Homo sapiens: one gene and its partner. The protein of the gene in region 1 interacts with the protein of each later gene in a biochemical or structural test. Each region holds a gene or a part of one and is shown on either strand. Other genes may lie near its edges.

Region 1 (5,270 bases):
GTATTTGACCATAACAGCTAAATTTACACTCCTTTTCATGAAGTTAGGTTTTTAGTCTCTAGTTATTGGGTTACAAGCGTGTTGGAAATATAAATATCTATTTCAGTTCTGTAAGATGTTGAGTTCACTCTTGTCATTAATAATTAAGTGACCTCTCAATATAACTGTGTAATTGGCAGTGCACATTATCAGCAAGATGGGCATTCAACACACTACACAGCAAGCATCACTGGACTGTGGAAAGTGTACATAATAACAAACATTTGTATAGTGCATTACTTAATAAAAGTTTCACTGTGGGAAAGAACTCATTGCCCAGATAAGGAAAAAAGGCTCAGAGATGTGAGTGACTTGTCTAAGTTCAAACTGCTAGTAAGTGGCAGAGTCAGCGCTTGGAAAAATACTCGGAGAGGGCATGAATATAAAGAGCTTCCCAACACTGGGAAGACGTGTCACGTCATCTATCAGCAGGACAGTAAAAGTCCACCAAATTGACTCAAAAACTAGTAATTAGGCGTAACAAATCCTTGGCTCTATGAACACCAAGTGTATCATGCCCATGAGAATTCAGAATTGGAACAGAGTGAGTAAAGGAAATTTAAAGGAATTTATGTTAAAAGGGATATTACAGCATAGTGAAGAGAACACTAAGCTGAAGATGGAGCCAGTAGAGATTCATCTGTGAAATGGGGCTATTTTGAACAAACGACTCCGCATACCCTTGAAGGCTCACAGGCCGGCTCCCATATGGGAGCTCCCTTGTCCTCCAGCTTCTGGTTGGTTCTGCCAGTGAGGACCCCTAGGCAGAGATAGGAGAAATGGGGAAACAAAGTTAGGGTTTACCCTTGGCTCCCTCCCTGTGAGGTCTCCTTCGATGGCAGTGGTCTCATCAAAGGCTAGTGCTCCTCTCAAGGGCTCCTGCTTTCCTGACTGTCCCCCTCCAGGCGGCCTTCCAGGTGCCTTCAGGCCTGCACCCTGTTGCTCTCCTAGCCCCTGCCCACATCTGTGGTATCAGTACATTTGTGAACGAATTCCCCTTACAGCATCCGCACTCAAATGCCGCTAGACCCTGACTGATGCATTCTGGAAGATTCCTCCCCATTGTCCATGTGATTGTTTGTGAACTATTTAACTCAGTTTGCTTGTTCTTTCTTTTCCATTGTAATGATTCCTGGCTTCTTCACACGAAGTGCATATGGTGTGCAATTATTAGAGGAAAGTGCCTTGAGTCTGCTCCATTTTCTTTAAAGTGTAACTGTTGTCCATAGTGACAAATAAGAGAGAAAACAAAAGTAGGTAAAATAAGGGCACATCTTTATTTTGCTACAAGGCAGTAAGTACACCGTCATATCTCAAAAGTTCAGTGCTGGCCATCTTGCATCAAATGTTCTTAAGGCAGTGACTGGCTATCAACCACAGTTTCTGTCTCCCCAGTTGCAAACACAGGATCCATGCAACAGTTCTGAGACCATACACTTAGAAACCACAGGGGATGCGGATCAAATGCAGAACTCCCAAATTATAAAACAGTCAGGCTACACTCAAAACAAAACATAGAACATCAACAACACACATCTCCCAAAAAAGAAGTGCAACGCATGCTTGTATAAACCAACAATAACAAAAAAACCACAATAAAAAATGCAGAGTCTCCCAAACAAGTTTTCAAATGTATTGCAGAAGGAAAAAAAATGTATATATATATAAAATTAAAAAGTCTGAAATACTAGTGCATAGTCAATTACCTAACACCAAGTTTCTTTTCTTTCTGTCCAAGCTCTACTGCCCCTCTGATACTAGCAGCATGTCTACAGGCTAAGACCATAGCAGCAAAAAACGTTTTTCATTTGGCATTTACAAAATTAAATTACTGAATAAAAATATAATTTTTTATAAAACTATTTCTTACAGTAATAATTTTTAAAGCAAGCTAACAGAAAACTCATAAAATGGTTTGGTACAATAAATGTACCTTCAATGTCATTAACCATAAATGAGCATTTACAATCTGGATTAAATGTCACATGGTATTAAGTCTACACTTAGAGTAATGCTTTTACTGATTTTTAAAAATATATGCATATGTTTAGTGATCGAGAAAAGTGAAATACTGGAGTACCTTTTAATGTGTCAAATTTCAAAAAACCCATCACAGGAAAAAATACTGATCTGTTGGATCCTTTAAAATACAGATAAATCATTTTATGTTTTTTTTAAAAAAATCTGCATTAAGATATTAACAACTGGCTACAATTCATTACCTAATAATTTAGGTAAGACTGTTATTTATTTTTAAAAATCCTTTTAGTTGGGTGAAATCCAAGAAGACTTCATTCAACTAAATGCACTTGGTGCTGCTCTCAACTGTTGTACCACAACAAAAATAGGTTCTTCTCCCATTCATGAAAAGTTTCATGTTGAGGAATGATATATCCCAAGTCAACTTGAAGTGTTCTGAAAACCATAATGCTTTTCTGGAAATGTCTCACATGACCAGCGTCCGGGCTGAGAATGCATTCACGTATTTACGAGCTTGACTGGAAGATGTCATCTGCTCCTCCATCTTTCCACAGGATGCAGGTTCCCAGGTACTGCTACAAGGCTGATGGAGAAAGGGATGGCAACAGGAGCGTCAGACAAAGAAGCTCATTCTATAGACCCAGCAGGGCCAGCACTGACCAACAGATGGCAAGTGGTTGACACCAGGAAGGCTTTGTCAGATAGAATCTTACCTCCCTGGCCCCCAGAAATCCGGTGTTCTTAAGGGATATGGATGATCAGAAATTATTTGTTAAGAGGGAAAACCCATTCCAAGCAGCTTCATAAGATATAATCCCATCTTCATATTTTAATGCCTTCCGTCTATTAGGCAATTTTACAAAGCTGGAGACAGGAATGAGCATTATTCTCCAGATACCTAAAGTGAGCTATGGCCATCTACTCACTAAGCAAACTGCTGAGTGCTGTAGCCACAGTGCAAAGCAGCTCATGCACGCACTGGAATTGATCAACACCTGCTAAGTGTCATATATATGTTTTCATCAATTACTTTAGAAATATTTATCAGTATAGTTTAATTTTTTTCCTTTTTTTTTTGAGACAGAGTCATGCTCTGTCATACCAGGCTGATCGGTATTGGTGCAATCACAGCTCACTGTAGCCTCAGCCTCCTGGGCTCAAGTGATCCTCCTACCTCAGCTACCCAAGCAGCTGGGACTACAGGCACGTGCCACCAAGCCCCACTAATTTTTGTATTTTCTGTAGAGACAGGGTTTCACCATGTTGCCCAGGTTGGTCTTGAACTCCTGGACTCAAGTGATCTGCCGGTCTTGGCCTCCCAAAGTGCTGAGATTACAGGCATGAAGCCAGTATAGTTTAATTTTTAAAGATACACTAGAAGATACAAGATGGACCTAATATCTAAGGACAGCATCTCCATGCCAGGGACAGTGGCACTTCACATTTCACATGCATTATTTCATTAAAACAGCACCATCACCTCGGGAGGCAGGTTCATTCTCTCTCTAGACAGGCTCGAGAATGGAGACAGAAAATGGAGGTAACTTGCCCAAGGCCACTCTGTAGGTAAGTGGTGGACTGGCTTTGAACTTTGCTGTCTCCAGCTCCTGCGATGCCTCTGTGTTGCCTCAAATGCAAACATGTACTATTTATGCCCCACTTGGTTTCCAAAAGGACGTAAGATGATTAGAAAAGAAATACAAGACAACAGAGTTTAAAAATGTGTATAAAGAAGAGTCATAACAGGGAAACAAATTTGGAAAAAATAAACACAGTTGGCCCTCTGCATCTGTGGGTCCCATATCTGTGGGTTCCACATCCATAGATTCAATCAATGGCAGATCAAAAATATTCAGAAAAAAATAATTGCTGTGTATTGAACATGTATAGGTGTTTTCCTTGTCATTATCCCCTAACAATATAACAACTATTTCCATAGCATTTACATTGTATTAGCTATTATAAGTAATCTAGAGATGACTTAAAGTATACAGGAATGAACGGGTACAATGTACATTATTCCAACGATAAATACACTCACAGCCTCGACTTTGACCACTATGCAATACATCCATGTAACAAAATTACACTTGTACCCCACGAATGTATACAAATAATAAAAAAAATTATATGGTAAGATGTGTGTAGATTATATGCAAACACAATGCTATTTTATATCAGGGACTTGAGCATCCCTGGACTTTGGTGTCCTTGCGGGTTCTGAAACAAATCCCCCATGGACACTAAGGAACAACTGTAACATGAAGATGGTATGAGATTTGCACACGAAACACCAGCATAAAGCACAGTGCCCCAGCTAGATGTAACCTCCTGCTTGACTCTGATCTCTCTAGCAGTCAATGCAGAGAGGGGAACAGAAACAAACAGATATAAGATTTGGTGGCTGTAAGCTCAAAAGGAAACCAGTGGGTTAGAAAAGGCACTATTCCTGGTATTGCTATCTGGAGGGATTATTTTCCATGGGACAAAAGAATAAGAAAGGCCTTAGCTGTTCAGAGCCTACAGTGTCCTTTATGAGACAGAATGGACACAGGTGAAACAGGAGGAATAATAACAGGCCGTGTGCGCAGGTTTGTGGTGTTGTCCATGGGAAGAGGGGATGGGACACTGAGGAACTGTCAAGGCAATGCTGTGGGGAAAGGGTGAAAACAGCTAAGATTAGGGGAGAGAGAGGTGGAAACGCAGGGATGTCATCCAGGGAGCGAGATAGCAGGAAAGAGGCAGGAAGCTGCAATTTGTACATTGCCAGTGGGAGGGGATGTGGAGTGGGGGAGGGCTGAGAAAGAAAGGGTTAAACGACAACATAAAACAAGCCCTCACTATAGGCACCGCATGCCTCTAAGTGTTATTGATATAACTCCTCTCATTTAATTCTCACACAAAACACCTGTGGCATAGCTACCATTCACTGCATCCATTTTACAGACCAGGCAATTTGAAAGGAAGAGAGGATTTAGGCGCCATACTCAAGGTTACCTGGGTAAGAAATGATGGAGCAAGAATGTCACCCATGGGACCACACCCCTGGTGAGTACCAGACGCTGCCTCTAATTCGAGTTCTTATCAGAAACAATAAAAGGAACCTGGGAAGTTGTGTGCTCAGGGCACCAGGGCCTTGGAATCCAGGAAAGTGCTGAGATGGGGTGTGAGAGTCACCAGACTTCTTAGCAAAGAAACATAATTCTACTAAAACAAGGTATGGGTACAGTGGTAGGGTTTCCTTGCCTAGT
Region 2 (5,699 bases), on another chromosome or scaffold:
AGATGCATTTTTATTTTGATTGAAAGATGGTGAGAATGTAGAAATGCTTAGGACTAGATTTTTAATTTTTTAAAATAACTATTATCATTTATTATGAAATATTTGTTCAGTTGTTTTGAGTGGGTTTCTTGTTCCTTTTTTCATTTAAAACCTTCTTTGTTGACTGGCTCCAGGCTTGTTTGCCTAAATTCTTAGGTAGTTTACACAAGTTCTAGAATCTTTTAGAACTTTAACTCCATTGGAAGCAAACCTAACTAATCGGAGTTTGAGATCCTGGTTGGTTTCAATAGGTATTCTGGAATTCTGGCAGAACACCTAAAGATTTTTTTTTTTTTTAGAAGGTTTTAGATACATTATCTTACACAAACTGTGACCTAATGGCAATAATTACCTCAAATGTGGGCATTCATCCTGGTTTTAGCCTTTTTTGAAATCATGTAGCCAGCTTGATCTTGGAATTTAAAGACTATGAATTCTCTGTGGGCTGAAAATAATGATTACTTCATACCCCCGGTCATCGTTGCTTAAGTGAATTCTGAAAATAGCTCATCTTTACAACAAAAATTAAACCAAGGAAGAGATTATTCTTTGTGTGTTGTACTCAAATGCGATGTTCAAATGCACATGTTAAGTATATATGTTTTTAGCTACTGTAAAATGCTGTTAGCCTTCTAAGCTATCAAAACAGTCACATTTTAAATGAGTAAACTAAACAATTGACTGTGGATACTTAAGCATATTTCTGGCTACGTTTTATAGTTAAAGTGTTTTATAGTTTACATTTAGACTGGTACTTTTTAAAGAAAAGTTCTGTTTATAACTGACATCCGCAAACCCCAGTGAATGCCTCTTAGTTGGAGGTTGTGTCTCCCCCAAGGCAAGTGTGTTGTCCCAGACTCTTCTGTAGTCCAGCATGCGCACTTCCCTCTGGATTATTACTTTCCACGTGAACTCAAGAGAACATGAAAGGCAATCCAGATGGAGGGAAAAGGTGTGAGTCCGCAGCCCGGGCCAGATGCGAAGGTCTCATGCGTGTCGTCTAAACACTTGTCTTCAAGGCCTTCTCTCTGACATCTTGGAAGAGTCATTGAGAACAGATAACCTGGTTCATTGATTTTTGTCTTGATTTGAATATTTAACTTATTAATAGATCCACTGATTTCCAGGCACCAGGCAGTAGAAGAGACTGGGATTCAGGTGACCATGAAGGCACAGCTGCTACTTCTGGGCCGGGGGTGATATTTTGATCAGCGTTTTGTAGGGGAGGACCATATACCCCTATTCCCATGGTCGCTGGCTGGGTTTTCCATATATCTGCTGTCATTTATTCGTTTTCCCCTTAAAAGCAAAATCAATGTAAAAGGCTATGTTTACGTTTTACTCATTGTCCAGCTTAGACTCAAAGTCTAGTTCGGTGGGAGGGGGACCTTAGCATCCTCTCAGAGATGGTCAGGGCTGAGCAGGAGGAGGCAGAGACAGAGGGGCAGCTCAGCCTGGTCCATTGAGACCCACTCTAAACAGACATCATATTTGGAACAAGAAGATGCTTCGAGACAGGAATGGGCCCCACTGTCATGCAGAAACAGACTGGGGGAATGGCAGTTTCCCTGAGTCTTGGTTTCTTTTATGTTTTCTCTTGTGCCACCACCAAACTGCAGAGGACCTGCTGTGACCTAAAGGGCATTCCTTTAGCAGATAAGACCTTGAAAACTGCAAAACACCTGGGACCAGGGAGCTTTTAAAAAATACAAAAAAATACCACATTTGCTTTTTCCCTGTGAACTGTATTGACAGCGTGTTCTTAGGACAGTCTTTTGGTGGAAATGTTACTGTAAAATAGTTTTCATCTCACCCCTCCTAATCATACTCCCACTTTCCTGTTTGTGTGGTGGTGTTGCTGTTTTTTCCTTTACATGAATTAACCAAATGAATTTTGTGTCATTGTTTTTGGGGCTTATATTTTTAAAACATAGAAATTGCCTTTTGTTCATTTGAAAAGTAAGTATGTTGTATCTGAAAAAGGGCTCTGCCTCTGCTCTCCCTCGCTTCCTTGTAACCAATCTCCAAACGAATCTCTCCTGGCACCGCCCCCTTCCTTATATAGGGTCACTGTCCCCGGGGCCACCTCTGCCTCCACCCTGCTGTCACCACTGCCCTGGGCCAAGGCACCCAGGACTCCCAGAAAGCGCGAGAGCCAGCAAGAAGGCCCCACTCAGCCTTGAGACTGGTGGTCACACCTCCCTGTCAGAGTCGCCTGCTGGGCTGAAGGGGCAATGGATTGTCATTGTTGAAATTGTTTGGCTCAGGTTATAAGGAGGAACTTGGGAAGTAGAAAGTGACTTGACCATGTGCATCCTTGGTAGCTTCCTGTAACTAACAAATGGAACAGAGAGCACACCCCCGCCCCGCCCCACCCCAAGCAGATGTTCCCGTCAGCGCTGCCCTGAGTCAGTCGGTCCCCCGTTTCTGCTCTCCTCCCTTTTGTGTTCCTGCTCACTTCAAGCTTCTTCCATGGACTTTCCAGGGCACAGTCATCTCTAGCCCCCAAATCATCTCTTCATCCTCTGTGTGTGCATTTTTTTAACCAAATGAAATAGACAAGAAAGTCATACTTTGGGGCAGCAGAATTTCTAATTTAGTAGAATCACTGTATAGAGATAGATGTTGATATATATGTTTGTGTATATATATCAAACCAAATTGGATAGGAGAAGTATAGCTTTACAGATGAGGAGAAGGAGCTCTTTAGAGGTCGGAGTCAAGACTGGTGTCTTGGACGTGCATGGGCTGTGTCCCAGGCCACTCCGCACACATGGGGCTGAGGCGTGGCGCCGGGCCCTTGTCATCCACCTCACCACGGCAGAGCCAGCAGGCCCTGTAGGGTGCTGCTGCTGTCTCACTGGGTCCCAGCTTCAAGCGCATCAGTGGGTGACGGGGGCAACAAATCAGAGTGACTGGAAGTTTCCATCCCGTTTTGCTTTGACCACGTGTACTGAGCTGCAGCCTCTGATACTCTGTCACGTTTCCAAAAATGGTATCCATTAGGATAGAAAGAGAATGGATCTGCAGAAATGTTTACCTTTCAACTGCTCATGAATTCAGGACACTGGATAGAAAGACTCACTCCCCAAAATGAGAACAGGGAAGAGGAGACCCGGCGACACTAAGTCACCAGGTCCAAGGAACGTGGCTCCCTCCCCAGGGTCATCTCACCTAGATCTTTCTCTCCCAGGTCATCTCAGCTCAATCTCAATAACCCTATGAAAGCCCTGGTCTGTTGTGTTCCTTCACCGTACGGTTTCTGTAATAAAAAGTGTTAATCCATGTTAATCTGTGTGAAAATTATTGCGTGCAACAGTATTTTCTCGTGTACCTCTTTTTCCTATGTGAATTGTCCCTCTTTTTTATTTATAAATGTCTACTTTTGTTTTTTTAAAGACAAACCAATGTGTTGTAGACCTATATGTAACCTATTCCTTAGTCTCATATTATAGGTATGTTATAAGAATGGATATTTTACTTGGCTTTAGAATGTTTTACAAGAAAACTAATTCTTAACTGATCAAGTCCTTGCTACTAAAATGCTTGTGTTTTTCATCATGACGTCGTGTGCTTCTAAATTAATCATTTTCGTTGTAGAAAAATGGAGTGAATTTATATTAGTCTTGGAAACTAATAATAGCATTGTAAATTTATGAGATGATTTTAACAGAAAAAATATAGAAGAATATAGTTATTTTAATTGTAATATTACTAACTGTAGGGTGAGAAAAAGGGGGGGGGGTCCCATTGTGGTGAACTATGTTATAGCTTGTTACTCATAGTTTCTTTTTGATCATTTTTTCGGTCTCCGAGGTGAAATGACTTATTAATTAAAATTTGTAAACTCACATATGCATATTGTATATGTGTAGAAATGTAATCACACTTTGTCTTGGAATTACATTAAACTGTTTGAAATCACTGTACACCTGCCTGGCATGCTTATTTATCCTGGAACCAGACCTGTCATAAAAGCGAAGAGGTTATTGTTACAAGTAACATATTTGGGGTTTGTTTGTTTATTTAGATGGAGTTTTGCTCTTGTTGCCCAGGCTGGAGGGCAATGGCACGATCCTGGCTCACTGCAAACTCCGCCTCCCAGGTTCAAGTGATTCTCTTGCCTCAGCCTCCCGAGTAGCTGGGATTACAGGCATGCACCACCACGCCCGGCTAATTTTGTATTTTTAGTAGAGATGGGGTTTCTCCATTTTTTGGTCAGGCTGGTCTCGAACTCCTGACCTCAGATGATCCACCTGCCTCGGCCTCCCAAAGTGCTGGGATTACAGGCATGAGCCACTGCGCCGGGCCGAGATTATTTAATGGCTCTGGAAATGTGTAGAAGCCACCACTGCATTGAACATTTGCAGAGAGAGGTGGGGGGCCTTGAGATCACATTACTACCAATTCCCATGCAGTTGAGTGGGGCTAAGAGTCTCCCAGCTTCCTGCTGCCTCTTCCAAGCCATTTCAGCCCCATCTGCTCCCAATCTCTGTCCCTGACACCTAAGGTGTGGCTGTCACCTGCTGTCCTGGAAGCTTTCCAATATGCATCCCGGATCCTCCGCACCCAGGCCCTGCCGTCTCACCAGACACCATCAGCACCCGGAGCCTCGTGGCTTGCTGGCCCATTGCCAGGGCCCTTGCCACTGCGCACTTGAGCTACGTGCGCCACAGCCCCGTCCAGGCGCTGTGCCTGCAGCAGCTCCACCTCAGCAAGCCTAAGAAACGCCACATCCTGCTGGGACTGGGGTTTCCCAGCCTTCTGACACTCTTTTTGTCTTAAATTATGGTAAAATATACATAATATAAAATTACCATTTTAAGTGGACTACTAGCAACGTTAAATACGTTCACATTATTGTATAGGTGTCACCACCATTTCCAGAATTTTTTCATCATCCCAAACACAAGTTCTGTCCCCATTAACAACTCCCCATTTCTCCCTCCACCCGGTGCCTAGCAACCACCCTTCTACTCTGTCTCCATGAATCTGCCTATCCTAGATATTTCATGTAAGTAGAATCATATATTTGTCCTTTTGTGTCTGGTCTATCTCACTTAGCATAATGTCTTTAGGGTTCATTCATGTTATGGCATACATCAGAATTCCATTCCTTTTCATGGCTGAATAATATTCCATTGTATGGAGAGATCACATTTGGCTGATCCATTTATCTGTTGATGGACATTTGAGTTGCTTCCACCTTTTGGCTGTTGTGCAAATGCTGCTGTGAACATTGGTGTGCAAAAGATCTGTTCAAATCCCTGCTTTCAGTTCTTCCGGGAGTGTACCCACAAGGGAACTGCCGGATCCTACAGCAATTTTAAGATTAACCCTTTGGGGTCCCATCATTCTGTTCCCCACAGCAGCTGTACCGTTTCACATTCCCACCAGCAATGCACAAGGTGTCCTGTTTCTCCACCCAGCACTCATCCTGGCTTCCATTTCCAGGATTTTCAAGTCTGGGGAGCTCTGGGTTCCAAGCCCTCGGTCTTCTGTGCCTCTGGGTTGGCCAGACTAAACTCCACAGCCCTTCCCTCCACCCACCTTTTCCCCTACACCCTCAGCTCACAGCCTTTTGCCTCTGCCACACCCCCTCGCAATGGCTCAGTGATTCTGCTGTCCACCTCTGCTCCGAGGGCTGCTGGGGAAGACCA

Evidence for each region. Proteins that work in one complex are often made in the same cells at the same time.
Region 2: the proteins of MYB (region 1) and HIPK2 form a complex in vitro, tested with the Homo sapiens proteins (one study listed by BioGRID).

What each region holds. Positions count from the first base shown.
Region 1 is NC_000006.12:135,215,196-135,220,465, reverse strand, and holds the end of MYB (transcriptional activator Myb), read right to left. Parts: intron 5,068-5,270; exon of another isoform or gene 4,966-5,067; intron 3,586-4,965; exon of another isoform or gene 2,603-3,585; coding exon 2,486-2,602; 3' UTR 1,294-2,485; downstream 1-1,293. UniProt on the Homo sapiens protein: Transcriptional activator; DNA-binding protein that specifically recognize the sequence 5'-YAAC[GT]G-3'. Plays an important role in the control of proliferation and differentiation of hematopoietic progenitor cells.
Region 2 is NC_000007.14:139,559,839-139,565,537, reverse strand, and holds the end of HIPK2 (homeodomain-interacting protein kinase 2), read left to right. Parts: 3' UTR 1-3,968; downstream 3,969-5,699.